Linked DNA regions of Homo sapiens. The protein of the gene in region 1 interacts with the protein of each later gene in a biochemical or structural test. Each region holds a gene or a part of one and is shown in the gene's direction. Other genes may lie near its edges.

What was found.
Region 2: of the proteins of MMP9 (region 1) and SCUBE3, one has a biochemical effect on the other in vitro, tested with the Homo sapiens proteins (one study listed by IntAct).
Region 3: of the proteins of MMP9 (region 1) and ELN, one has a biochemical effect on the other in vitro, tested with the Homo sapiens proteins (one study listed by IntAct).
Region 4: the proteins of MMP9 (region 1) and TGFBI form a complex in vitro, tested with the Homo sapiens proteins (one study listed by BioGRID).

The regions. Positions count from the first base shown.
Region 1 is NC_000020.11:46,011,908-46,018,798, forward strand, and holds the end of MMP9 (matrix metalloproteinase-9 preproprotein), read left to right. Parts: intron 1-229; coding exon 230-406; intron 407-519; coding exon 520-675; intron 676-1,347; coding exon 1,348-1,627; exon of another isoform or gene 1,628-1,749; coding exon 1,750-1,889; exon of another isoform or gene 1,890-2,216; coding exon 2,217-2,367; exon of another isoform or gene 2,368-2,463; coding exon 2,464-2,567; exon of another isoform or gene 2,568-2,881; intron 2,882-4,342; coding exon 4,343-4,461; 3' UTR 4,462-4,654; downstream 4,655-6,891. UniProt on the Homo sapiens protein: Matrix metalloproteinase that plays an essential role in local proteolysis of the extracellular matrix and in leukocyte migration. Could play a role in bone osteoclastic resorption. Cleaves KiSS1 at a Gly-|-Leu bond.
Region 2 is NC_000006.12:35,237,956-35,244,955, forward strand, and holds part of SCUBE3 (signal peptide, CUB and EGF-like domain-containing protein 3 isoform 1 precursor), read left to right. Parts: coding exon 1-63; intron 64-752; exon of another isoform or gene 753-1,796; coding exon 1,797-1,919; exon of another isoform or gene 1,920-2,418; coding exon 2,419-2,535; exon of another isoform or gene 2,536-3,185; coding exon 3,186-3,311; exon of another isoform or gene 3,312-3,587; coding exon 3,588-3,704; exon of another isoform or gene 3,705-3,850; coding exon 3,851-3,955; exon of another isoform or gene 3,956-4,248; coding exon 4,249-4,365; exon of another isoform or gene 4,366-4,666; coding exon 4,667-4,825; exon of another isoform or gene 4,826-5,065; coding exon 5,066-5,281; exon of another isoform or gene 5,282-5,638; coding exon 5,639-5,800; exon of another isoform or gene 5,801-6,007; coding exon 6,008-6,175; exon of another isoform or gene 6,176-6,475; intron 6,476-6,694; coding exon 6,695-6,856; intron 6,857-7,000. UniProt on the Homo sapiens protein: Is a positive regulator of the BMP signaling pathway, required for proper chondrogenesis, osteogenesis and skeletal development. It acts as a coreceptor for BMP ligands, particularly BMP2 and BMP4, facilitating their interactions with BMP type I receptors.
Region 3 is NC_000007.14:74,023,064-74,031,936, forward strand, and holds the start of ELN (elastin isoform a precursor), read left to right. Parts: upstream 1-5,109; 5' UTR 5,110-5,124; coding exon 5,125-5,206; intron 5,207-8,873. UniProt on the Homo sapiens protein: Major structural protein of tissues such as aorta and nuchal ligament, which must expand rapidly and recover completely.
Region 4 is NC_000005.10:136,059,532-136,064,318, forward strand, and holds the end of TGFBI (transforming growth factor-beta-induced protein ig-h3 precursor), read left to right. Parts: intron 1-1,302; coding exon 1,303-1,405; intron 1,406-1,968; coding exon 1,969-2,048; intron 2,049-3,131; coding exon 3,132-3,156; intron 3,157-3,654; coding exon 3,655-3,695; 3' UTR 3,696-4,287; downstream 4,288-4,787.

The DNA.
Region 1 (6,891 bases):
GACTTCCAATGGCCCCGCCCCAGCCACTAAGGTTCGGCCTTTTCTGCCCAGCTGGCCGCCTCTTCCTTGGTCTGGTGTCCCAGGCACCGCCCACGGGTCTAGCCTCTTCTCAGGAGTGCTCTACAGCGCCCCCTAGGCCACCAAGATTGTTTAGCTCCCTGTCGGGTCGGCCCCTGACTCCTTATTGGACTCATCCATCTGGCTCATCCAAGGCCTTGGGTCTCTCCAGCTGACTCGACGGTGATGGGGGGCAACTCGGCGGGGGAGCTGTGCGTCTTCCCCTTCACTTTCCTGGGTAAGGAGTACTCGACCTGTACCAGCGAGGGCCGCGGAGATGGGCGCCTCTGGTGCGCTACCACCTCGAACTTTGACAGCGACAAGAAGTGGGGCTTCTGCCCGGACCAAGGTAGGCGTGGTCCCGCGGCTCCGGGGCTGGGGTTCCCGGCAGTGGTGGTGGTGGGGTGGCCAGGGCTGGGGGCTCGGCCCGGCGCTCACGTCTCAGGCTCCCTCTCCCTCCAGGATACAGTTTGTTCCTCGTGGCGGCGCATGAGTTCGGCCACGCGCTGGGCTTAGATCATTCCTCAGTGCCGGAGGCGCTCATGTACCCTATGTACCGCTTCACTGAGGGGCCCCCCTTGCATAAGGACGACGTGAATGGCATCCGGCACCTCTATGGTGAGGCAGGGGCAGGGATGGGAGGAGGAGGGGAAAGGGCGTGGCTGTGCCACAGTACCAAAGAATTGGGGGTTGGGGATCGGGGGAGGAACGGGGCGTGCAGGAGAGGTGGGACCTCAACGTCTGTCTGGAAGCAGAGCCTGGGCCCAGTCGCTGCCATGTCAGTGCTTAGAGGTGGTGATAAAGAGACTCTAGAGAGAGATAGGTGTGACTTCAAAAGCCAGTCTACTCTGGGCATGGTGGCTCACGCCTCTAATCCCAGGGCTTTGGGAGACCCAAGGCGGGAGGATTGCTTAAGCCCAGGAGTTCCAGACCAGCCTCGGCAACATAGCCAGACTCCCATCTCTACAAAAAATAAATGAGCAAGGCGTGAAGGCACATGTCTGTAGTCCTAGCTACTCTGGAGGCTGAGGTGGGAGGATCTCTTGAGCCCAGGAGTTCGAGGCTGTAGTGAGCTATGATTGCACCACTGCATTCCATCCTGGGCCATAGAGGATGTCGCTTAAAACGAAAAAGAAGAAGAAGAAAGTCCTGTGGTTTGGGAAGGGAGGCTGAGTGAGGAGGGGCCTGTGTGCCAGAGGAGGCTTCACTGAGAAGCTTAGGGGAGCAGATGTTCTAGGGGTACAGAGGTATGCAGGAATAGGAAGAGTCTCACCCCGTGTCTCTTTTTAGGTCCTCGCCCTGAACCTGAGCCACGGCCTCCAACCACCACCACACCGCAGCCCACGGCTCCCCCGACGGTCTGCCCCACCGGACCCCCCACTGTCCACCCCTCAGAGCGCCCCACAGCTGGCCCCACAGGTCCCCCCTCAGCTGGCCCCACAGGTCCCCCCACTGCTGGCCCTTCTACGGCCACTACTGTGCCTTTGAGTCCGGTGGACGATGCCTGCAACGTGAACATCTTCGACGCCATCGCGGAGATTGGGAACCAGCTGTATTTGTTCAAGGATGGGTGAGGAGGCGGGGTTGTGTGGATGCGGGAGGGGGCTTTGCGGAGGGGCTGCCCGTCCCTTCCCGCCCACTGGCCCTGTGTCCAAGGCTTAGAGCCCGTCCTTTCCCTCCTCGCTTTCTCAGGAAGTACTGGCGATTCTCTGAGGGCAGGGGGAGCCGGCCGCAGGGCCCCTTCCTTATCGCCGACAAGTGGCCCGCGCTGCCCCGCAAGCTGGACTCGGTCTTTGAGGAGCGGCTCTCCAAGAAGCTTTTCTTCTTCTCTGGTTAGTTACCTACTTTCCCTCCCCCGCCCGGTCAATCCCCATCAGTCAAGGAGGCTCAAGAGACCATCGATAACCCACGAAACGTCTTGTGCGTTTTAGAAAAATACGCCCCCTGGCGGACGCAGTTTAGCAAACGTAGGGGCGGCTGAGTTTCTGCCCCCTCCTCTCCACGCCCTCGCGTCGCTCTACCCAGCGCCTCTGCCCCTGGGTTGCAGGGACTGCGGGCACGCGGGCTAGGAAAGGCCTCGCCGGAATCTCCCTCCTCGCGTTCTAGGAGTACGTGCTCCCTCTGCGCCCCCAAACCGACGTGACCCTCCTCCCCTGCAGGGCGCCAGGTGTGGGTGTACACAGGCGCGTCGGTGCTGGGCCCGAGGCGTCTGGACAAGCTGGGCCTGGGAGCCGACGTGGCCCAGGTGACCGGGGCCCTCCGGAGTGGCAGGGGGAAGATGCTGCTGTTCAGCGGGCGGCGCCTCTGGAGGTGAGCGCCGCCGCGGCCGCCGGCAGGGGGAGCCCGGGCGCCGTCGGTCCGTCCGCTAGCCGGCTCAGCACCTGTCTCCTCCGCGCCTGCCCGCAGGTTCGACGTGAAGGCGCAGATGGTGGATCCCCGGAGCGCCAGCGAGGTGGACCGGATGTTCCCCGGGGTGCCTTTGGACACGCACGACGTCTTCCAGTACCGAGGTGAGGGCTGAGGAGGATCCCTTCGTGAGACACCACACTAAGCTCCTCTTAGTGAGTGGTCAAATTCTGAGCGAGGAAGAAAAAGCCCTTGGAAATGGAAACAAATGCCCCAGCACAGACAAGATCCCAGCAGAGGCAGAGGCCTTCTCCAGGTCATTTAGGAAGTCAGGGATGCAACCAAGACCAGGACCCAGATTTCCTGCCTCCCCGGCTGGAAGCTCTTTCTCCTTCAGTACAGGACGGCAGGTGGTTTGTATGGAAGCTCAGTTATTAGACAACAGTCATCAAGTGCCGATAATGTGCCAGGCACTGTGCTACAGGGAGAGATAAGACAATTCACAGCTCTGTGACTTTGGGCAAGTCACTGCTTCTCTACTCTTCGAGCCTCAGTTTCCCCATCTGTAATATGGGGACTATAGCTGGAATTACACTTGACTTCCCTTTCTTACCAGTCACATCCAAACAGTTGACAAGGTGAACAAGATTTCCTGCCACCAAAATCTTTTTCGAGTCTGTCATTTTTTTTGCCATCTTCTTTATAAACACCCCAGCCCAAACCATACTGGCTGTCCAGGACCTTTAACAAATTCCATGAGATTAGAGAGGGGGTAGGAGTGAAGGGCAATGGTCTTGGGAGTGACCCCAGATGAATTCCAAGGTCAAAGAAATTAAGAGGATCTGACACTCCACCCCCGTGTTCTCATCTCTTCCCACTCCTCCTGTTATTTACTCTGCTCCACCCACACTGGCTGCTCTTTGAACAGATCAAGGTCATTCCTAGCTTACAGCCTTTGTGCCAGTTGTTCCCTCTGTCTGGAAAGCTTCCCCTCCAGATTGTCACTGGGCCATCCCACTGTCTTCCTTCAGGTTTCAGTGCTAAGGCCATTGCTTCAATGAGGCCTTCTTTGATGCTTATTATCTATTTACTTGTTTTTATTTTCTCCATAGCTTTCTATATTTTCTTTTTTTTTCTTTTTTCTTTTTTTTTTTTTTTGAGATGGAGTCTTGCTCTGTCGCCCAGGCTGGAGTGCAGTGGCACGATCTCAGCTCACTGCAACCTCCGCCTCCCGGGTTCAAGCGATTCTCCTGCCTCAGCCTCCCAAGTAGCTGGGATTACAGGTGCCTGCCACCACGCTTGGCTAATTTTTTGTATTTTTTAGTAGAGACGGGGTTTCACCATCTTGGCCAGGCTGGTCTTGAACTCCTGACCTCGTGATCCACCCGCCTCAGCCTCCCAAAGTGCTGGGATTACAGGCATGAGCCACCGCACCCAGCCGCTTTCTATATTTTCAAAACCAATCTCATTTATTTATGTGTTTGCTTAATTGTCTCTTGCCTCACTAGAGTGTAAGCACCAAGATAATTGAGATCATGCCTGCATTTTTTCTGCTTATCCCCAGTATCTTGAACAAAGCACATAGTAGATGCTCAGTAAATGATGAATGAACAGATTTGTTCAATGAATGAGCGTTGAATGAATTGTTCTGAGCATTAAGATAGTTGGTCTATTCATTTGTTAATTCATTCACAAAATGTGTATGGTGTACCTACTGTGTGCTAGGCTCTGTGGCAGTGCTTTGGGCACTGAGGTCTGTGCCCTCCAGCATCTCACAGAACCTCACAGCATCTCACAGGTTGGGGGGATGGAGGTGATATGTGAAAACCTTAGAAAGTTCTAGAAATGGCAGAAGAGATGGTTGTCAAGATCTTGTTCCTATTTCTGTATATGTGGGAGAATTAGAATCACTCCTCTTATGCCTGCCTGTCTCCTGCAGAGAAAGCCTATTTCTGCCAGGACCGCTTCTACTGGCGCGTGAGTTCCCGGAGTGAGTTGAACCAGGTGGACCAAGTGGGCTACGTGACCTATGACATCCTGCAGTGCCCTGAGGACTAGGGCTCCCGTCCTGCTTTGGCAGTGCCATGTAAATCCCCACTGGGACCAACCCTGGGGAAGGAGCCAGTTTGCCGGATACAAACTGGTATTCTGTTCTGGAGGAAAGGGAGGAGTGGAGGTGGGCTGGGCCCTCTCTTCTCACCTTTGTTTTTTGTTGGAGTGTTTCTAATAAACTTGGATTCTCTAACCTTTAGAAGCAGACTTTATTTATATATGTATGCACGTATGTATGCATGTATGTATTTAACTGATAGAGTGCAAAAAAAAAAAAAAAAAGGAAAAACAAATAACTGATAGAGTGCTTTCTACGTGCCAGAAAGTGTTCTAGGCCGGGCACGGTAGCTCACTCCTAGCACTTTGGGAGGCCGAGGCAGGCGGATCACGAGGTCAGGAGATTGAGACCACCCTGGCTAACACGATGAAACCCTGTCTCTACTAAAAAAAAAATAGAAAAAATTAGCCGGGCGTGGTGGCGGGCGCCTGTAGTCCCAGCTACTTGGGAGGCTGAGGCAGGAGAATGGCTTGAACCTGGGAGGTGGAGCTTGCAGTGAGCCGAGATCACGCCACTGCACTCCAGCCTGGGAGGTGGAGCTTGCAGTGAGCCGAGATCACGCCACTGCACTCCAGCCTGGGTGACTGAGCAAGACTCCGTCTCAAAAAAAAAAAAAATAGTGTTCTAGGCACTTTGTAAATGTTAACATATTCAATCATTCCTGTTAGGAAAGTATGATGTGATTATTTCTATTTTACAGTCAAGGAAATGATCAACCTGTTTATTCATTCATCAAACATTTATTGAGCCCCTACATGGAGCCAGGCCCTGTACTGGGCAATGGGGATAGAGAAATGAGTTAGACTTTAGAATGCATAAGATTCCCCTTGGAACTTGCTTAAAATGCAACTCCAGGCTCCACCTCCAGAGAGTCTGACCTATTTACAAGGGTGATTCTATGGCTGGTGGCGGTGGGATCACACTTGGGGAGTGTGCAGTGCATGATCTTTTATTCTACAATAATGGTGTGTGTGTGTGCACATGTGTGTGTGTCTGTGTTGTGGTTGAGGTCCAGGAACGTTTCTCAGTCAAGATGACATCTGAACCGGAACTGAATCAGAAAGGATGAACGAGCTTCTTCCTGTGCAAGGGACAATCTTCTTACAGGGTAATTTACCAAGAACCACTAAACCTAAAAATGTAACTACTTTCTGACCCTCACATGTGTGCACAAGACAACACATAGAAGGATGTTGATTGCAGCATTGTTTGTTAGTGAAAAACTGGCAATAACCTAGCTGCCCAGGAGTAAGTCAGTGGATAAATAAAATATGGATCATATACCTGACGTTAGTAGCTATCCACGGTACAGCACTATGTGCCAGGCACTGTTCTATGTGCATTTTGTGTGACAAAACAACCAGAGGAGATAGGTACTCCTATTACTTTGTATGTACTATTATTACTGCCATCACCAATCCCTTGTTTTACAGATAAGGAAACTAAGGCACAGAGAGTTATACAACTCACCCAAAGTCTCATAGCTAGTGAGTGATAAGAGTGGGATTTGAATGTGGGTTCTTGGTGCAAGTGCACGAAGAGAAAAAGAAGAGAAAAAGCAGTGGGTGTCTGGAGAACTTCAAATGGCTCAGAACTCCAGCATGGGGTAGTAGCAGGTGGCTAAGAGGGAATGGAGAGGATTCCAGAATGGTTAAGATAGCAGTGCTAGTTTGGGCTAGATGAGAGAAGTCCTGAATGCCAAGCTGAATATGAATTTGACCTTACAGGTTAGCAAAGGGACTTGACTGAAAGATTGGGGCCCGTGAGTGGAGATGATGGGTTTGATCAGGGCCCACGTGGGAATTTAAGTAGGAGTCCAGAAAACTGCCCTCCTGAGCTTCCTCTTTCATCTGTTTCTTGCTCAAATGACCCACTCCCACTTGGCGTACAAACATTCCCCGCCATGGCTTGTTTACAATCTGTCTTAACCCCTGCCTCCCACTAGATACTAGTCTATTTCTCTACCTTCCTATCCCTATTCACAATAAAACTTCCCAAAAGCATGGTCTCTACTCACTGTCTCCACTTCCTCAATTCCCATTCTCTCCTCAGCCATTTCCAGCCTGGCTCCCACCCCACTACACCACCAAAGTCACCCTCTTCAAAGCCATTTATGACCTTCTTGTAGCCAGATGTGACAGGAGCTCCTCTCTGCTCATCCCACACCAACTCTCCCCACATTGACACAGTGGATCCTGCCCTTCTTCCTGAAACTCTCGGCCTCTGGAACCTTACTTCTGGGTCTCCTCCTACCTCACTGGGTGGATTTTCCTCTTCTGGTGACAGAGGCACCCTTGTGCTCAATCGTGGGAATCCTCTGCTCTGTGTATACTCATTCCCTGTGATGTCTGGTAGCCCACAGCCTTAAATAGCATCTC
Region 2 (7,000 bases), on another chromosome or scaffold:
CTGGTGTCCACTGCACCTGCCCTGTGGGCTTCATGCTGCAGCCAGACAGGAAGACGTGCAAAGGTAAGGACTTTGAGAGGACAGAAGCAGAGTGACCTTTGGTAAGGGGCTGAGGTTGGGACCAGAGATAGGGTGCCTATTAGGGGATGACACCTCCTCAACCTCCTTCTTATGAAGAACCCAGGACATAGCTAAGGGTTGTCTCCTATCTGCCTGTTTCATCTCAGTTCAAGGGACAGAGAAGTCCAGCCAGTTCCTTAGTGCCCCCTTCCCCTACCCCACCTTGTTTCCCTACTCTCATTCCTATCCCCCATGGGTCCCTAACCCTCTTAGTTAATGGACATGCGATTCACATTTGCTCCTGGGTCTGGAAGGATATTTGAGCCCTGACTGTGTGTGTGCATGAGGTCACAGGTGTGTTCCATAACCTTCTTACCCCACATTCCTCAGACCTTCCCAGTGGGCTCTGGGGAAATGATGTCTACCCCTCGAAAGGCTGTACTGGTCAAAGGGAGAGTAGGATACTAGTTAGGAGGACTGAAGCTGGGTTCAGATCCCAGCCCTGTCTCCTACTAGCTCTGTGATCCTGGACAAGTCACTTAATGTCTCTGTGCCTCAGTTTTCCATAGTGCTCGCCTCATACTGTGTTGTGATTAAAAGAGTGATTACATAAAAAGTACTTAGAACAGTGCTTGGCAAATGGAAACACTTTGTGTTAACTGTTATTACAGTATAGTTACCCACATTATGCATTCTGTTTCCCTTCCTTTTAATTAGCCAGGTCTGAGGGAGAATGGGGGGAAAGGGTGGAGGAAAAAGGCAGGGTAGCCATACTGAAAATGATGATTCATTAGGTCCATATCCCCTGGTCACAAGGAGTGGGGACGAGGAGGACTGGGCTCGTTCTTTGTGTCTTTTGGCCCAACAGCTGCGAGAGGAGGGGGGAGGCTAGGGCAGCAGGTCAGCCAGCCAGAGTTGAGAGGTTTCCTGCTGGGAAGAACTGTTGACAGGTATGCTAAGAGTGAAGTGAAAGGCTGCCCTCCCTGCCCCTTCCCCCAACCAGGGGTGAGTAGCCTGGGTCCTGTCTGCCACCAGCTTGGGGAACTTGACCTCAGGAAGGAAGCCATTCACCAGCCCCCCTTTCCCTTACTAGTGCTGAAAGCTGCCTCAGGCCTGAGTCTCTCCAGATCTCTCCCAGTCCAGCCCCTTGCCTGGCCCCCAGCCCTCCCCCATCAGCTACCCAGCCTCACTGGCTCTCCTGGAGGTCCTCCCTGCCTGGCCTCTTTCCCAGCTCCTCCTCCTCCCTAAAGGGCTGCCCGTTTTCAGTGAGTCCCTTTAGACCCTCCACCTCTCCTTGCCCCGCACCCCCCCAACCCCCCGTCCTGAGGGACAGGAAAGAGATAACCCTTACCCACCAACCTTTCAGGGAATGGCCATCAGCTGGAGACTAAGGGCTAGCCTGTTAGGTCAAATGCCCACCTGCCCCTCCTCTAGGTAATTCCCTGAGGGCCTGTTCCTAGTTTTGGTTCCAATTTGTCCCCTTATAAGAACACTCAATCCCAGAAGAGAGGGTGTTACTAATGGCCACAGATCCCCTGAACAGGGAAGAAACAGAGACAGGAAAGAGAGAGAGAGACAGGAAAGAGAAAGAGAAAGAGACAGAGAGAGATCAAGAAGAGGCAGGCCCAGGACTCCTTGATTTTTGCATGTCTCTGTCAGTGAGGGAGGGATCTTTCTCCTTGTTTGTTCTCAGCCTTTGATAGTATCTTTTATCCTGTTTTGTCCTCCTTCTTCAGATATAGATGAGTGCCGCTTAAACAACGGGGGCTGTGACCATATTTGCCGCAACACAGTGGGCAGCTTCGAATGCAGTTGCAAGAAAGGCTATAAGCTTCTCATCAATGAGAGGAACTGCCAGGGTGAGCAGACTCAGCCAAAGGTGAAAGCCTTAGGAGAGGTTCTTGTGGGAGAGCTTCAAGGAGGCCAGAGGGCTAAAGTCTTAGAAACTCAATAGATATCACACAGAGTCTCTAGAGGCAGTGTCATCCTGCAAATTAGCAAATGGTACTCTTTCCCCTCAGCGGACTAGCTCCATATCAAAGCATTCAGCCTGGCAAGGACTGAGGGATGGATTTCACCCCAATTCATATCCTTGGCAGAGTAGGACGTACCTAACCACACATGGTGGGCCCTGACCTAAAGGCACCAGATCTTGCAGTTCCTAATTCCAAGGACTTCAAATAGAGGGGGCAGAGAAGATGGAATGGCATTGTTAAATCACTGGTCCTAGAGCTAGGACATGAATAGGAACTCTTCAGTTCAAGGGGGAAAGCCAAGGCCCCTCACTTGGGTCCTTCACCTGAGCAAGGGTCAAGTGCTCCAAGACAGATTCAGTGGCTTGAATCTTTGCTCTTCCAGATATAGACGAGTGTTCCTTTGATCGAACCTGTGACCACATATGTGTCAACACACCAGGAAGCTTCCAGTGTCTCTGCCATCGTGGCTACCTGTTGTATGGTATCACCCACTGTGGGGGTAAGCTAGTAAGCTTGCACCCCCAGCCACCCTGGCCCCCTCACCTCTTCACCCTCCAATTGAACAGGTCCTTGTGTTGGCTTGTGGCTATGGGCAATCCCTGGATGCATGCACCATGTCTGCATCCGCTGTGACAAAATAGGAGGAATTAAGACAGCTTTTGAAGAACTGGGAGACTGCGGAAACAGCATCCTGCCTCCAAAATTCCTATCTCCCATTCCTATAACTGTCCCTGAACCCCCACTCTCAGCTCCCAAATGACAGTCTCACTGGTTGGGAGGAGTGGAAGGCTTTAAAAAGCTTGTTGGCTTGGCCCCTTCTCGATCATTCCTTTGGGGACAGAGATAATTGGAGGAGGTTTGAGCTCTTCTCAGGCCAGTAGTCATCTTACAGTGCCTAGAATGCCTTTTTAACTTTTTTAAATTGTAAGAATATTTAACAAGAGATCTACCCTCTTAAGTTTTTAAGTGTACACTACAGTATTTATGTGCCTATAGGCACACTGTTGTACAGTAGATCTCTCGAACTTATTCATCTTGCGTAATGCAGGGTACCTGAAACTCTAACCAAAGGCCCTCACTCACTGCCTACTCTCCGGCTCCTCCTCCAACTCCATCGTTGTTTTTCTGTCTCCCTACTCCTTCCCCCAGATGTGGATGAATGCAGCATCAACCGGGGAGGTTGCCGCTTTGGCTGCATCAACACTCCTGGCAGCTACCAGTGTACCTGCCCAGCAGGCCAGGGTCGGCTGCACTGGAATGGCAAAGATTGCACAGGTGGGCAGTGCCCTCTGCTGGCCAAAGATGACACTGCCATTTCAGGGAGCAGTTGGGGTTCTGGAAAGCATAGAGTATCACATTGGGGAAAGGTGTGAGGTGGAAAGGGTGGAGAATGTAGCCATTTTGAGTTAAAGACATGAAATTTGTAGTAAACAATCCCATCATCAGTCTCCATGGGTACAACAATAGTTATGCAAGTAGCTGATTCCTCCAAATTACCCAACTGAGGGAAAGGAATGCATTCATTTGCTCAGGCCTCTCTCCCCTTCCTAGAGCCACTGAAGTGTCAGGGCAGTCCTGGGGCCTCGAAAGCCATGCTCAGCTGCAACCGGTCTGGCAAGAAGGACACCTGTGCCCTGACCTGTCCCTCCAGGGCCCGATTTTTGCCAGGTACATGGGAGGAGGGTGCTGGAGAGCTTTGGAGGAGAAAAGAGGAAGGACTGGCCGTTCAGGCAGCTCCTTCATTCCCCCTGGATTCCTCCAGCCAGCGGGGGTTGGGAAGGCAGGTCAGAACTGTGACAGGCTCCTTTTCTCAGAGTCTGAGAATGGCTTCACGGTGAGCTGTGGGACCCCCAGCCCCAGGGCTGCTCCAGCCCGAGCTGGCCACAATGGGAACAGCACCAACTCCAACCACTGCCATGGTAAGCACCAGCCCAGAAGCCCTGTTCCCACCCTACTCTCTTACATTAATCCCTTATTTTTGTTCTTCATCAATCCCCTGGCCTTCCTTTCTCCTGGATCCTCTTTTTTGCCCTGTAATTCTCCAACCCTGCTCCCTCACTCCCTCTGCCCTAACATCTGATCCCCTTGACTTTCATAATCTCACTCCCCCAGCCAAGCCCCTGGCTTATTACCCAGCTTCTCAACAACCCCTACGGCACCCCCGACCTCCATGGGCATCCCATACTGTGCTGAGTTTCTACCATCCCTCTAGAGGCTGCAGTGCTGTCCATTAAACAACGGGCCTCCTTCAAGATCAAGGATGCCAAATGCCGTTTGCACCTGCGAAACAAAGGCAAAACAGAGGAGGCTGGCAGAATCACAGGGCCAGGTTTGGACTGGGGACCCCATTCCAGTTGGCTGTCTGGCCACTAAATCCTCCTTACCCCTCAGCTCCTCTGCTTCCAAAAACCCACCAGAACCCTGAACTCTAGGCAGAGCAGAGGAAAAAGCAGCTGTAGGCATAGCACCCAAGGAAGTCCCAGAATATTCCCCTCCACCAACTAATTAGGACCCTAGACTAAAACAGGATTGAGAGATAGTTACAGTTAGAGATCTGGGGAGGTCTGTCTGGGCTGGGAGTGAGAACTTTCCAGGGGATGTCCCTGGGGTTGACAAGCCCTCTCTCCCAGGTGGTGCCCCCTGCTCTGAATGCCAGGTCACCTTCATCCACCTTAAGTGTGACTCCTCTCGGAAGGGCAAGGGCCGACGGGCCCGGACCCCTCCAGGCAAAGAGGTCACAAGGCTCACCCTGGAACTGGAGGCAGAGGTCAGAGCCGAAGAAACCACAGGTGGGACTGGGGGCACTGTTGGGAAGAGGACTGGAAGGGGAGGGCAGAGGTGGGGAAACCACAGGTCTCAGCAGCAAAAGGAAGGGATGGAGCCTGTACTAGGGGCAGACCCTGCCTGGTGCCAAGCCTAAAAGCTAGTCCCTCTTACCATGCCCCTCCTAGCTCCCAGCTTTGCTCCCCTGCCCTCCTGCTCACAGCAACTCTTTCTCCTCCCTGATACACACGGCCATCCACCACCAGCCAGCTGTGGGCTGCCCTGCCTCCGACAGCGAATGGAACGGCGGCTGAAAGGATCCCTGAAGATGCTCAGAAAGTCCATCAACCAGGACCGCTTCCTGCTGCGCCTGGCAGGCCTTGATTATGAGCTGGCCCACAAGCCGGGCCTGGTAGCCGGGGAGCGAGCAGAGCCGATGGAGTCCTGTAGGCCCGGGCAGCACCGTGCTGGGACCAAGTGTGGTAAGGGAGCTTACTGGGGAGCAGGGATGTAGGAAAGACCCAGTTTGGGCCTGACTCAGAGCAGGACCCTTTGTGGCCTCAGATGCATTTCTCAAATTATGAGGCAGCCAGGATGCTCCTGCCCGCTGTCCTCCCTTCCTTGGTTCCAGGCTGAAATCTAGAAGGATGCCAGGTGGGGCCAGCAATCCTCCTGCACACGGTTTTGACCCTCCTATCCCCCCAAGTAGGATTGTGTTTGTTCCCTGACAGAGATTCTCCCTGAATCGGGGGTTGTGGCGGGGAGTGGGAAGGGGAGTCCCAGGCCTGGGTGGTGGGAAATGCGGGGGTGGGTGGCTAGCGCGGCCGACTCTCCCTCAGTCAGCTGCCCGCAGGGAACGTATTACCACGGCCAGACGGAGCAGTGTGTGCCATGCCCAGCGGGCACCTTCCAGGAGAGAGAAGGGCAGCTCTCCTGCGACCTTTGCCCTGGGAGTGATGCCCACGGGCCTCTTGGAGCCACCAACGTCACCACGTGTGCAGGTGCCAGGGGAACAAACAATACAGAGTGGGGTAGGGTGGGCACTGGGATGCCCATGGGCATGGGATTTCCCAAAGGGCAGGCCCAGGCTCCAGGCCACTCTCTTAGTCAACATCCTGTTTGTATACCTTTGTCCCCTGAGATCGGGTGACCCCATGGGGATGACTCAGGACCATCCCCATCAGAGTTGGGCCCTTGATTCATTGCAGGTCAGTGCCCACCTGGCCAACACTCTGTAGATGGGTTCAAGCCCTGTCAGCCATGCCCACGTGGCACCTACCAACCTGAAGCAGGACGGACCCTATGCTTCCCTTGTGGTGGGGGCCTCACCACCAAGCATGAAGGGGCCATTTCCTTCCAAGACTGTGACACCAAAGGTGAGTAAGCTACTCACCTCCCTGGGGGATGCCCCAACCCCAACTACTCCCAAAAAACTCTCCAATTTCCCAGAGGGGACACTGACCCACCATTTTCTCCAAACCAGTAATGGGCCCAGCTACTTGACCAACCATACCATCCTGCTTCCAGGACCCACCCTGCCCCTCCACTAGTCCCAAGCTTGGGAACTGAGAAATAATTAACAGTCCCACTTACCCCTCCACTTTGGAGAACTGGTGGCATATTCTCCTCCATATCCCAAATGAGTTTCTATATAGGTTTGGCACTGTGCTCAGCGTCTGAAAGAAAAGGATTGGCACTGTAGCCAACCACTCTGTAAACTCTGTTTTTCCGTGGGCTTAAATTCTGGCATGACTGGGAAAGATTGAGACCCTAGAAAAGAACTTTGATGTATCTGATCTCCTGATTCTCCAGGATGAATGTATCCTGTCCATCCCATGCCCCGTAACTCCCACCTGCCTACCATCTTGATTCCTGCCCTTCTCCCTTGCCTACAGTCCAGTGCTCCCCAGGGCACTACTACAACACCAGCATCCACCGCTGTATTCGCTGTGCCATGGGCTCCTATCAGCCCGACTTCCGTCAGAACTTCTGCAGCCGCTGTCCAGGAAACACAAGCACAGACTTTGATGGCTCTACCAGTGTGGCCCAATGCAAGAGTACGTGGCAAGCCAGGCTGTGCAAAAGGGAGGAGAGAGGCCTGGGAGCAGTGGACATCTAAAGGAGGGGTGTGAAACCAACAGGGAGCAGGGCTGGGGGGTGGAGGAGCAGGAAAACTCCACCTTCCACCTCTCCCCAACTCA
Region 3 (8,873 bases), on another chromosome or scaffold:
TGTGCTTTGCAAACGGTCAAGTGTCAAACAAACAAGAGGCGTGCTCTGGACTCCTCCATCCCGGGTCCCATGGGAAGGGGGTGCACAGAGGAGGGCCGGCTCACGATGTTCCCCTCTAGATGGCAACAGACAGCCCGTGAGGCACTGTAGGAACAGCACAGGGCAGAACAGCCCGTCCGGGACACCCACCTCCCCACCCCCGGCTCACACTGGCCAAAGATCCAGACTGACAAATGACTCAGACACACAAACGCCCGGGGCTAAGAGGAAACACGGCATGGCCCGGAGGTTGCAGGGGGCAGCACTCACAGGGATGGGGCTTTCTGCTATGCCTACCCCTCCACCCAGCCATGATCAGTGGCCTGAAATGGTGTCATGGACCCCCTCCCATGTTTGAGCACTTGCTGTATACCAAATTCTTACAGATATGTTTGTACTCTTAAATGGTTATGAAGATCCTGTCTTCATAGGACGAAACCAGGGATTCTAGGGGTCAATTACTGTTGATGTCACCATCCTTCATTATTATTAGATAATCTGGCCAAACTCATACACTAATCAACATCAGTCCCCATCACAACCACAACAACGACTGCTGACCCTTCCGAACCCACTCCCAGCCTGGGGGGTTGCAGAAGCACCGAGTTCCAGAATTTCAGCCTCCCTCCCACAACGTCCAACGCACCCCCTCGAAGCACAGCCTGTCCTTCTTTTGAGCTGGCTCTGTGTGATGAAGGGACACCCAGCAAATGGCCCAGACCCATGGGCATTCGATCTATTTTCGGTTGCAGTCCCTTTACCTCTGACACCTGTGCCTGCGCCAGACCCCTTCCTTTCCTGGCCGGCCATCCGAGGGGTCCCTGGTGGCCTCTGGGAAGAGAGGAACTGCAGAAGTCCCTTTCATTTTCCAGCTGAGGTGCTGGCTCTGGGCCGATGCTGCCGGGCACCCCACAGGAGGTAGCCGCCCTCTCTGGCTCAGTCACCAGCACGAGGGCAGGGCCACTCCTTTGGGGCTGCTTGTCACGGGTGCCCTTTGCCAGCCTCCAAGGACATCCTTCCTTCTCTGTCCCTCTCCCCTGTCCTCAAGCCCCGTCCCATTTTGAACCTCTGCATAGCAGGATTCAGATTCCCTTCCAAGCGCATCAGAACTAAGGCTAGCTCTGGCTGGGCATGGTGGTTCACGCCTGTAATCCCAGCACTTAGGGAAGTCGAGGCGGGAGGATCACCTGAGGTCAGGAGTTCAAGATCAGCCTGGCCAAAACGGAGAAACCCCGTCTCTACTAAAAATACAAAAATTAGCCAGGCGTGGTGGCGCGTGCCTGTAATCCCAGCTACTCAGGAGGCTGAGGCAGGAGAATTGCTTGAACCCGGGAGGCGGAGGTTGCAGTGAGCCAAGATCGTGCCACTGCACTCCAGCCTGGGTGACAGAGAAAGACTCCCTCTCAAAAAAGAAAACAAACCACCAAAAAAGAACTAAGGCTAGCTCATCTCACCAGTCCTTTATGATCTAAACCAGTGCTGTCCCCGGTGGCAGCTGCTGGCCACATGTGGCTAATGGAGCACTTGAAATGTGACAAGTCCAGATTGAGACGTACCCTCGATGCAAAATACACACCAGTTTTAAGACCTGGTACAAAAAAGAATGCAAGATATCTCAATAACTTTTATTTTGATTGGATGTTGAAAGGATTATACTTTAGATATGTTGTGTTAAATATATTACTAAGAATAGTTTTACTTATGTTTTCTTTTATTTCATATGGCTACTAGTAAATTTAAGATCATAGGAGGGGCTGGATGCGGTAGCTCACACCTGTAATCCCAGCATTTTGGGAGGCCGAGGCGGGCGGATCACCTGAGCTCAGGAGTTTGAGACCAGCCTGGCCAACATGGTGAAATCCGGTCTTTACTAAAAATACAAAAATTAGCTGGCAGTGGTGGCGGATGCCTGTAATCCCAGCTACTCGGGGGCTGAGGCAGGAGAATTGCTTGAACCTGGGAGGCAGAAATTTTAGTGAGCGGAGATCACGCCACTGCACTCCAGCCTGGGTGACAGAACGAGACTCCGTCTCAAAAAAAAAATCTGAACTTTGTCTGGATAGCGACGGAGGGTGTCTGAGCAAAGCACGATGTTCTCAGAGCCATCCAGAGACTGGGAACTCTGTCCTACCAAAATGGGTGCACCCAGAGGAGCTGGAAGATAGAGATGCCCTGTGGGTGACTCATCTGGTTGCCCCTTGGTGGCACTGAGCCAGGCAACAAGCGGGAAAGGCTTGTCAATGATAACGGCAAGACCAACGATCACCAGGCAGCCAGGTGCACCCGGTAGCCCTCTGTGGGCAATTCTGCATGTATGACCTTATTTAGTCATACAGCTAGGCAAGGAGGTGACACTAAGCATTTGAGTACTGATGGGGTCTTGAATGAACAAGTAAATGAATGAATGAATGGATGGTGGCCGATGACTGTCATCTCTAGTTCTTACATTATGTATCTTATGCATCAGACTACACGGCATGGATATTCAGTGCAATGGATTTGATTGTGAATTGAGGCCCCCTTTTGCAATCTTGTTGCATGTTATGTTCGTGGAGCTCCTGCAATGAGCAGAGGCTGCTAAGCAGAAGCAGCGCACAGGCTGGGGGCAGGACACAGGGCCCCCGGCCTCAGGGGAGAGGTCTGTTCCAGCCACCTCAAGTCTATTCCTGTGAGTGCCCCTCCACACCCCTCCTGGATCCCCCCACTGCAAACTCTCTCCCCCTGGCTCCGGACTCTCTCCCCGTCCTGGAATTAATAAAGACTCTGTGCAGACTGCGGTTTGCAAGTCTGAAAGCTGGTTCCTGCCCGTGTCACTGCCTCGAGAAGAGAGGGGTCCAGCTCCCCACAGTAGCCCCTGCCTTCCTCCTTCCCAGGCAGGCGGAGGCACGCAGATATACCATTGACTTCCCCTCCCCTGCAGCAGGCACATCCTGGGCATCGAGCTTCAGACCCTGCCCCTGAGCAGCCCCTAACCCCACCAACAAAGGGTGGCTTGGGGGGGCTTTCACCCCAGCATAATCTCCATCAGCTACCCTCAAAGCACCCCCAAATAAACACACACCGTAAGTAAGAGCTGTACACTGGCTGTGTGCGTACATCTTCAAGACAATTCTCCCAGCATGCCCCTACCTTCCAAAATTCCAGAGCTGCTCCCTCCAAAGACCCAGGGAAAAGGAAGGGTTTGTCCAGGGTCCTGGGGTGGCCCCGTATAGACCAAAGCCTGATAGCTGTCCTAGAAGCAGAGTACTTGCAGAGCGAGTGACGGCAACTGTGGTATTGACACCAGTCCTAGCACCAGCTGAACACAGAGCATTTTTGATCTAGCAGAAATACAAGACCACGTTGTATTTGTCTTTGCAATAATCTCTTAGCTAGGAATACTGATCACCTGTAGACAGATAAGGAAACTGATGCTCTGTGGAGAGGTTTTCCTACCAGAAAGGCTAGAGCCAGAAATTTACTTCTAGGTCCACCAATACCTGCCTTTGACCAATGCCTGCATTTGACCTTTCCACGCTGAGCCACCCCTGCTGGCACTCCAGACTGCCACAGTGCTCCTGCCTCCACAAGGGGTCTTTAACTCATCCCTCGGAGCCATCGTGGTGCAGGGAAAAGCCCACAGGGCGTGTGGCTTCCATGCTGTTCCCTGACTGGCTGTGACCTAGGACAAGGAACAAGTTTCCCTCTCCTATTCTCTAGGTCTCACATTTCTTCTCCTCTAGCAGTAGTGGGAAGTGAGGGGTGGGGGACACGACCCTCCCCTGTTCCATCCCACACTCCAACCCCCAAAATCCCCCAGGGTCCCCGTCCAGCTCAGTCCTGGGGGCAGAAATGCAGAGTTCTCCAGGAACGTGGTCCCAGCTGTTTCAGTGCAGGCCGCCCCCTCCTGGCCACCAGCGGAATGTCAGCCTTCCCAGAGGGGCCGGGAGAACAGCAGTCGAGAAGCTCCCAGACTGGTGTGGGCGCTAGCTGTGCTCAGCGTGGGGATGGGAGGTGACCCAGTGATAATGGGAAGCTGGGCTGCCTGTCAGTCTGCGGGGGGCTCCCACCTCCCTGTTCCCCCACAGGGCACCTGGGGATCCAGCCTGATTTTTACCAGACCCTGCGGCCTGCATGGGGCTGGGTATAGGGCTGTGACCTTGACCCATGCAGAATAGAACCCTGTGTGTCGGGATCCTCCATGTGCTCCAGATGCCCCTGGGGACAGCACCAACATGGCCTTAACTCCCAAGCCATTCCCCTGCCTCTAACCCCCTGGCATCTGCAGGCATCCACCCCAGACCCACCCAACACCTCCTCCCCAGCTTCAGGCGCTAGGCAGAGACCTTGGCCCCTGCAGAATGCAGCCCTGTCCAGGGTCCCCTACCTTCCCCCCAGATCCCTCCCAGAGCAATACCAACCCGGGCCTACCTTCCAGGCCATTCAACCTGCAGCCCCCCGGCCTCTGTAGACATCGCACCCCCCAAACCCCCAGACCTGCCCAATGCCTCCCCTCCCCAGCTTTGGGCAGAACCTGTCTCTAGCCAGACCTGGGGGTGTTGGGGAGTCTGGAGGGCCGGGGTGGGGGCTGAGGCGCGGGACAGCTGGCCCGTATCCTCACACTGGGCCCGGGGCCCAGCCGGAGGGGCGGGGGCCTGGCCACTCGGGCCTTGGCTGGGGCTGGGATTTTTGGCCTGGCCGCCAGGCCCTCCCTTCTGCTTCCTCTCCCGAGGGCTGTCCTGGCAGAGGCCCCCCTCGCTCTTTCTGGCGGGAACAGGGCCAGCAGCGAAAGAACAGTCGCAGAGGGAAAGCGGGAAAGAGATGGGGGAAAGTGTGTGTGTGTGAGTGTGTGCTTGTGTGCATGTGTGTGCGTGTGTGTGTCAAGGAAAAAAGCTCGCAGTCCAGCAGCCCGGGCCTGGGAGGCTTGTGAGCCGGGCCTTTCGTAATTGTCCCCTCCCCGCGGCCCCCTCCCCCAGGCCTCCCCCCTCTCCCGCCCTCCCGCCCGCCCTCTCTCCCTCCCTCTTTCCCTCACAGCCGACGAGGCAACAATTAGGCTTTGGGGATAAAACGAGGTGCGGAGAGCGGGCTGGGGCATTTCTCCCCGAGATGGCGGGTCTGACGGCGGCGGCCCCGCGGCCCGGAGTCCTCCTGCTCCTGCTGTCCATCCTCCACCCCTCTCGGCCTGGAGGTAAGGACCCCTCGCCCCTGTCCCCAGCGCTGCCCACAGCTGCGGGCCCTTTGGGCCAGGTGACTAGACGCTCAAGGGGGAGACCTTCGTCCCTGGGAACTGCAAGGGGTCCCAGGTGGGAGCCCCTCAGCCACTGGGTCCTCGGAACTGCCCCTCCCAGGAGCCAGCCCCGTGCCCAGGAGGAACCTGTCAAAGAGACACCCTCGACTCAGAATAGTCCCAGCCCAGCATCCAGGCTTTGCTGCCCTGCGAGGGCTGAGGGGGCCCCTGCTCAGGTGCCCGGGTGCCCGCCCTGTAGGGGGATCAGAGCATCCTGGGGGAGGGCCCAGCGGGAACCCCTGGGTCTGGAGACACCACAGTCTGCACACCTGTGGACACAGCTGGGGTGCACACCAGCCCTGGGGACAGGGAACCTGGGCTTGATACCAGCTCAACCGCAGTGAGCTGTGTGACCTCAGCAGGTTCCTTGACCCCTGGGAAGCCGGGATCCCCCCGTCAGGAAGGTCAGGGCTCCGCTGAGGATGGGTTTGCAGGTTGGGAAGCTGCTGCTGTGTTCTCCCTGCTGAGGCAGGCAGGGACTCCTGGTATGCATTTGTGTGTGTGTGTGTGTGTGCATGCACACAGGAATGAGCGTGCTGTGTGCTCGTGTGTGTATGTGTGCATGCACAGGTGTGCATGTGTTCAGATGCCCGGCTGTGTCACTGAACAGGGAAAGGGATTTCTGGAGGGGTACATATGTCTGCTCACAGGTTCATCCTTAGGCAGGTGTATGCGTATGTTTGGAGGAGGTATATGAAGCTGCTCCTTAGTGTGTGCAAAAGTCTGCCACCTGACAGACATGTAGACATGTACACATGTAGACATGGGCGATCTGGCATCCAGGTGTGACACTGGTGTGGACTGTCACTGTGTGTGTTATGGAGTGTGTACATCTGTGTGTGTGAATGTGTGTGCGATGTGGCACGCAAGCATGGAAAGGCGGGCTGGAGAAGGTGTCTGTCTCCTGGCAGAGGCAGTGTGGCTGAGACAGAGGCTGGAGTGGATCCTGGGGCACTGCTGGGCCATCTGCTATGTGCCCCAACCCAGGCACAGTTGGTTATGGGGTTTGAGGGTGTGCCCTGTGGGGCTGCTATGCCGCGGCCAACGGGGGAGGACAGAAGAGGCTCCCGGGCATGGGAAAAAGGAGGGCATTTGGTAGGGGGGTCTGGGTGGAGTCTGGTTTCCTCGGGAGTCCTCCTTGCCATGAGAACCAAACGCTGAGTGGGGGGCGGGAGGGCCACGGGGTGGAGTCAAGGGCCTGGGCAGGAGCTGCAGCTGTTTCCGTGAGATTGAACAGCTTCCTGTGCAGGGTCCGCTGCTGGACCTGGATGAGGCCAAGGGACATGGGTACCCACAGGCGGGCCCCAGCAGGGGCAACGAGCCAGGGCCTGAAAGCAGCAGCCCCGGGTCCGTCTCAGCCTCCTCCCCAGGTGTAGCCCCCAAACACCCAGCCACCCTTCTTCCCAGATGGGGCCACCACCTATAGGGTGGCAGTTCATCATCAAGGAACCTTGAGAATTAGAAATTATTATCATCACTTGACAAACAAGGAAGCTGAGGCTCCGGCAGGCTAAGGCAGTCCCCGGGGGTTAGTATCAGCCAGCTCTCTGCCCCAGGTCAAGGGGCAAGGGGGTTAGGAGTGAGCTAGCAGGCAACATTTGGGGAGGGGAAGGCTTGGGGCTGAGTCCTTAAAGCAGGCATGCCCTAGGCAGAATCAGCTCTCTCCTTGTGTCCTCAGTGACACCGCTAAACGCCCAGCTGGCCTCACACTTTGCAGAGATCAATCTCAGCTCTGTCCCAGGTGGCTGGACTTGCTAGGTCCAAATAAGGGGTGTGTGAACTGATGAGCTCGTGTGGGGTTTTGCACAGAAGTGCTACTGAAGTCTGCAGAGGTCGGGGAGCCAACACAGGGAGTGGAGCGCTCAGTCACATGCTCACTGCCACTCACCTGGCTGTCCTGGGGGAGCCTGGCTTCTCCCTCAAGGAGGAGGGTGTCACTTATGCAAGTTCAGCGGCTCCAAGGAAGGAACCCTGTTGCGGGGGTGGGGGAGCAGGAGGAGGGGACAAGCCGCACAGCTCCCAGGCTGTTTCAAAAGTGAGCATGAGAAATTAACCCAGGGATAATTCTTCCCCATCCCCCAGAAATAGTATCAGGGATTTTTTTTTTTTTTTTTCCTGATTTCAGAACTGAAGATGGTTTGGAACAGAGGTTTCCTTTTCTTTTATTTTCCTTTTTTATTTTTATTTTTTTACCTTTTTTATTTTTTTTAAATTGAGACAGGGTCTCGCTGTGTTGTCCAGGCTGGTCTGAATTCCTGGGCTCAAGTGATCCTCCCACCTCCGCCTCCCAAAGTGCTTGGATTACAGGCATGAGCCACTGCCTCTTTTTAAATATTTTTTTAATTATTGTTTTCCGTCCTTAAGTAGGAACAGGGGTTTTCAACCTGGCTATCTATTAGACTTCCCACCCAAGAATCCCTGCTTGCTTTGGTTGGAGAGGGACCTGGACACAGACTTTTCAGGCTTCCCAGGTGACGGTGGGGTCGCCAGGGCCAAGAAGCACTGGTTTAGAGGTCGATCCCGCTCTGTGTGTCTGCCGAGGCCCCGGCATGAGGGCAAATGTGCCCTGTGTGGGAGGGGACACAGTCACCCAGTGGAGGACAGCTTGTTTTTGAAAACCCTTGGCAGCCTTCTGCATGCAAACAACAAACAGCTTCGTGTGGTCTTATCTGCTCCCCAAGCCAGCCCCCTGGACTTTGGTTTGGCAAAGCCCCCTGCCAAGATCGGCTGGCCCCAGGCTCGCTCCCAAACAGGCTGCTTCCAGCTCTTTGAACCTGGAGCCCAGGGCCCAGGCAAATGGCCCTACATGTGACTTGGGGTCAGCTGGGGGTCCCAGACCAGGCTCTTCAGCTCACTGGTTCTCCATTTCCCTGGCTGCAAAATGGGGAGAAACAGCCCTGCCTGAAGTACCTCCTAGGGCCAGTGAGAGCTTCTAGCAATGTAATATCTGGGGGGAAAAAAAGCATCAAATAAAAGGACCGTGGGAATGGGCATTTTTAAAATAATCTATTCTCTTATTCAGAGTCTGCTAATTTGGGCTCATGGATCCTTGTAATTAGTGCACATTGCTAAGGTTTAATACTCCCTCTCACTACTTACACCATGTTTTGTCTAGTGGAGGGGCAGCTAATGTGTAAATAGATGTGCAATGATGAAAGAAGCAGACAGGACTCGGTTGGGGGTGGCCAGAAGGAGCCTTGAGAAATCCAGGAAGGCTTCCCAGCAGAAGTGACATTTGAGTTAAACCTAAAGAGAAAAGTAAATGGGGCCAGGTGCAGTGACTCATGCCTGTAATCCTAGCACTTTGGGAGGCCCACATGGGCAGATTGCTTGAGCCCAGGAGTTTGAGACCAGCCTGGGCAACATAGGAAGGCCCCCGTCTCTATTTAAAAAATAAATGAATATTTAAAAAGAAAGAAAAAGAAAGAAAGAGAGAGAGAGAGAGAGAAAGGAGAGAGAGAGAGACAGAAAGAAAGAAAGGAAGGAAGGAAAGAAGGAAGGAAGGAAGGAAGGAAGGAAGGAAGGAAGGAAGGAAGGAAGGAAGGAAAATGTTGGAGGACCTGTCTGT
Region 4 (4,787 bases), on another chromosome or scaffold:
TCTGTACTCACACCATCCCACCCCCCAAACCCAGGGCTTCACTGAGTTGTACCATGAACCAGACCATCCCAAGAGGCTTTTTGAGTTCTGACACTTGCTCTGTGAGCCTTCCCTTGCTCTGCACATTGATGATATAACTTTGTAACTGCACTAAGAGTGTTCCTAAAGCAGATAGCCAGCCGAGCTCCAGAAATCTCCCTGGCTGCACCTGCAGAGGCCACTGACCCCTCTGTGGAGGGACCGCTCTTCAGTGTGTGGCTGGCTTCTACTCTCTGCTCCTCTCTCTTGGTCTTCAGCCATCCATTGCTCACCAGTTTCTCACGAGGAGCATAGGAAGATATGCATGTAGGGAGGTAGGCACGGGGATGACTTGTTTGACTTTAGCAGGTCATTCAAGAATCTCCTCGCACCTGGTTTCAGATGCTGGGGTCCTGTCTGTCACAGGCTTCTGTGCCTCCTACCCCCTTGAGTTTGTCACATGGCCCTTCAGGAAGGCCTGAGATAGATTTGCCCTGGGTGGGCCTCCTATGAGAAAATCTTAAGTGAGGCACCCAGGCAAAATGGAAAGAGCCTTTTGCCCAGAGCAGGAAGCCTGTCTTCCATTTCCAGCTGTTCCACCTACTTAGCTTAAAAGAGGCACTTCGCCTGTCTTCAGTCTCAGTCTCAGTCTCCTCTTCTGTGGAATGGGACAATAATATCTACTCTCCTTATCATACACTGCTGTGAGGACTGAGTGGATCACACAAAAAAGCATTATGTAAATTGCAAAGTGCTAAATCCACACAGGAGATTTGAATTAATCCACCACACTGAAGGTCTGTCAAGGGCAGGGACTGTTTCATTCACCAGAGTATCCCCAGTCTAACACAGGACTTGGCATATGAAAAGTGTTCAGTAGGCCGGGTGCAGTGGCTCATGCCTGTAATCCCAGCACTTTGGGAGGCCAAAGTGGGCGGATCATCTGAGGTCAGGAGTTCAAGTCCAGCCTGGCCAACGTGGTGAAACCACATCTCTACTAAAAATACAAAATTAGCTGGGCGTGGTGGCACATGCCTGTAATCACAGCTACTCTGGAGGCTGAGGCAGGAGAATCACTTGAACCCAGGAGGCGGAGGTTGCAGTGAGTCGAGATCATGCCACTGCACTCCAGCCTGGGCGACAAGATTGAAACTCCATCTCAAAAACAAAGAACAAGGAAAAAAACGAAAACTGTTCAGTAAACACTTGCTGAATGAATAAAATAAATATATAAATGTATAAATAAATGCTCTACTTTCAACCACTACTCTGTTTTTCTTTTAGAAAAACAATGTGGTGAGTGTCAACAAGGAGCCTGTTGCCGAGCCTGACATCATGGCCACAAATGGCGTGGTCCATGTCATCACCAATGTTCTGCAGCCTCCAGGTAAGTGTCGCATCCCCACTGACTCTGCAGCCAGTCCTTTTCTTCATGTGGCAGTTGGTGGAGAGAAGAAAAACTGTTCTAAACAATGATGAGAATAACATGTAATTGTGATAGTTAAACTGTGCCTATGTGACTGATTGCAGAGTGAATTGGGAGCTGTTGGTTTTGAATGCACCACACTAAGGAATGTGAGGACACATTGCTCTTTGCGGAGTTGCCCAGCTATATTAGCTCCCCTCGGACACAGCCCAGTTTTCTGTATTCGCGTGGATGCTGTCCGCGCGATTCCCAGCACTCCTCTTACAGCATCTCACCTCAGTGTATGTTCCTTGCCTCCAGTGCAGTTGAACCTCAGTCCTGCCTCTCCTCATGTGTGCATTCACCTTTCTTGGTGCTCTCTCCCCATGGGCCAAGTTCTACCATGAGTTATGAAACATTATGGAGAAAACATGTCTTTGGAAATGTGAGCCAGAAAGCCCACCAGTGCCCCTCAGTCACGGTTGTTATGAATGACATGCTAATGGTTTCACTCTGGTCAAACCTGCCTTTTCTTTCCTCTTCAGCCAACAGACCTCAGGAAAGAGGGGATGAACTTGCAGACTCTGCGCTTGAGATCTTCAAACAAGCATCAGCGTTTTCCAGGGTAAGATGCCTGCTAGGTTTGCGCCTAGCCTGAGCAGCCTCAGGTCCTCTGTTTGGGCCATAGAGGAGCCTCTCCAGCCCCTGTCTTCCTTGGCTGCTCCCCAGGGCTCTCTTAAAACTTCTCCCCACTCCCACTGAGGCATCCTCAGCCCCAGCCTGTGTCAAATTCAGAGTAAAGAACCAAGGCAACTCCCTGGCTTTCATGGGCCAAAGCGCAGGCTTTCACACCGAGGCCTCTGAGCCTCAGATCATGGGGAAGTCACTGCTGGAGAGAACAGACATAGCTCTGGAAGCCATCTGCCCAAGAGGGCAGCCCATCCCAAGTTCATCTTACAGTGGCCAGGCCTGCCCTGAGCCGGGGCCTCTGGGTCACTCTTCTGCTGTCCATGGCATTGCCCATCCTGGGTGAGGCTGGGGCTCTCCTGGGCACTGTATGTATTCTGGATACAGGGATACTGGGCTCGCTATGTGTGTGGAGCCATCCCTTCCTTGCCCCAGCCCCACCTCCCTCTCAAACCCTCTCTGGCTCTTTCTGAGCTTCCTTTCCTGCTCCCCAGCTTGCCCAGTGCTCAGTGCCCCACTTGGCTCTTTTGCTACTTCGGGTCAGGTGGAGCCTCTTGGGAATGTGAAGTGCCTTACAGAAAGATTGCACTTCAAGAGGAGAGGCTGCAGGGAGCCATCCTAAACCCAGAGGCCTGGAGCTTACTGTGTCACTTTACTTTTGTACACAGGGGTCTCCTTAGTGCCCTCGAGAAGGATTCTTGGCCCTGAGCTTCTACTCCTGAGGCCACCTCTGTGCAGCCCCAGCTCCCTCAACTCTAGGCTGTAGTCTCAGTGGGAAAGCCTGGCTTGGGGGTCTCCTAGGAATGTCCACCTGAAGGCACACTTGATAGGGGCTTGCACAACTTATGTCTGCCAAGGCCACCTGAGGAACTCCCTGGTGCCTATAAGTTCCACCTTCCCCTTCCTCTTCCTCGCCCCAGCATTTTTTCTGAGTAGGGGTGGCAATGGGCAAAGCCATTGTCATAAGCAGTTGCAGGTATAACTTTCACTAGAAAACCTGACACCTTGTGTTTTCTTTCAGGCTTCCCAGAGGTCTGTGCGACTAGGTGAGTCTGGTCTGGGTTTGAAGTCATTGCAGACCTGTTTAGGCCTTACCCCCAAGCAAGCCCAAGCCTGCCATCTGCTGTATATAGATAAGAACATCATGGTGCAGTAAAAGAAGCCTGGCCTTTGGAGTCAGAACAGCAGGGTGACTTGGGGTCAGACCCAGAGCACCCCATTTCCTTCTCTGTAAGATGAGGATAATAAGAGTAACAACCTTTTAGGGTTAAGGTGAGTTTTCAGCTTAGGAAGTCTGGGAATATTGCAAAGGGCTTGGCAGGAACCCATGGTGAGGATCTAGTTCCAAGTTGATAGGTACAGAAAACCAGAACATCGGGCCTTGAGTAAAGAGTGAAGTTTCACAAACCACAAAGCACCTGCTATGTGCAGGAGAGCATGGCAGAAGGAGGCTGCTTGGCCCTGGTCCTTGAGATTCTGACAGTGTCCTAGACAGACATGGGGAGATCTGCACCTATTTGACGTTACCAACTTCTCTTTTTCAGCCCCTGTCTATCAAAAGTTATTAGAGAGGATGAAGCATTAGCTTGAAGCACTACAGGAGGAATGCACCACGGCAGCTCTCCGCCAATTTCTCTCAGATTTCCACAGAGACTGTTTGAATGTTTTCAAAACCAAGTATCACACTTTAATGTACATGGGCCGCACCATAATGAGATGTGAGCCTTGTGCATGTGGGGGAGGAGGGAGAGAGATGTACTTTTTAAATCATGTTCCCCCTAAACATGGCTGTTAACCCACTGCATGCAGAAACTTGGATGTCACTGCCTGACATTCACTTCCAGAGAGGACCTATCCCAAATGTGGAATTGACTGCCTATGCCAAGTCCCTGGAAAAGGAGCTTCAGTATTGTGGGGCTCATAAAACATGAATCAAGCAATCCAGCCTCATGGGAAGTCCTGGCACAGTTTTTGTAAAGCCCTTGCACAGCTGGAGAAATGGCATCATTATAAGCTATGAGTTGAAATGTTCTGTCAAATGTGTCTCACATCTACACGTGGCTTGGAGGCTTTTATGGGGCCCTGTCCAGGTAGAAAAGAAATGGTATGTAGAGCTTAGATTTCCCTATTGTGACAGAGCCATGGTGTGTTTGTAATAATAAAACCAAAGAAACATACGTCCTGTGTGCATGGTACAGTGTGCTGACCTGAGGCCGTCATGCTCCTCCACACCTCAATTCTGCTCTGGAGAAGCTCAGAAAGGAGCCCCGAGGGATGGTTTTGGGGAGATTCCAGCAGCCAGCCCTCAGACAGCCAGACAGCTCATGGGGGTTTGAGCCTGTCTTTGCCAAACAGGTTTTTATTTCACCCTCCTCCGGTCCTGGGGTTTCAAGTTTTCAGTGTTGCCTTCACCCCGCACTTTATTCCTCTTATTACTTGGAAGTACCTTCCCTCCAGCATGGTGATCCCCTGCCTGTGTGCTGGACTTTTGAGTCCTCAGCACCAACCTGTGAAGTGGTTGCCAGCATAATCCCATTATGCAGATGAGGAGACCAAGGCCCAGGGAAGGGAGAACCACCAGCAGCACGTAAAATAGCTGAGCTGGGACTGGAACTCACACCTCCTGACTCTCAGTGACCACCACTGACAACAGCATAAGTCCAGGTTTTCCAGGCCC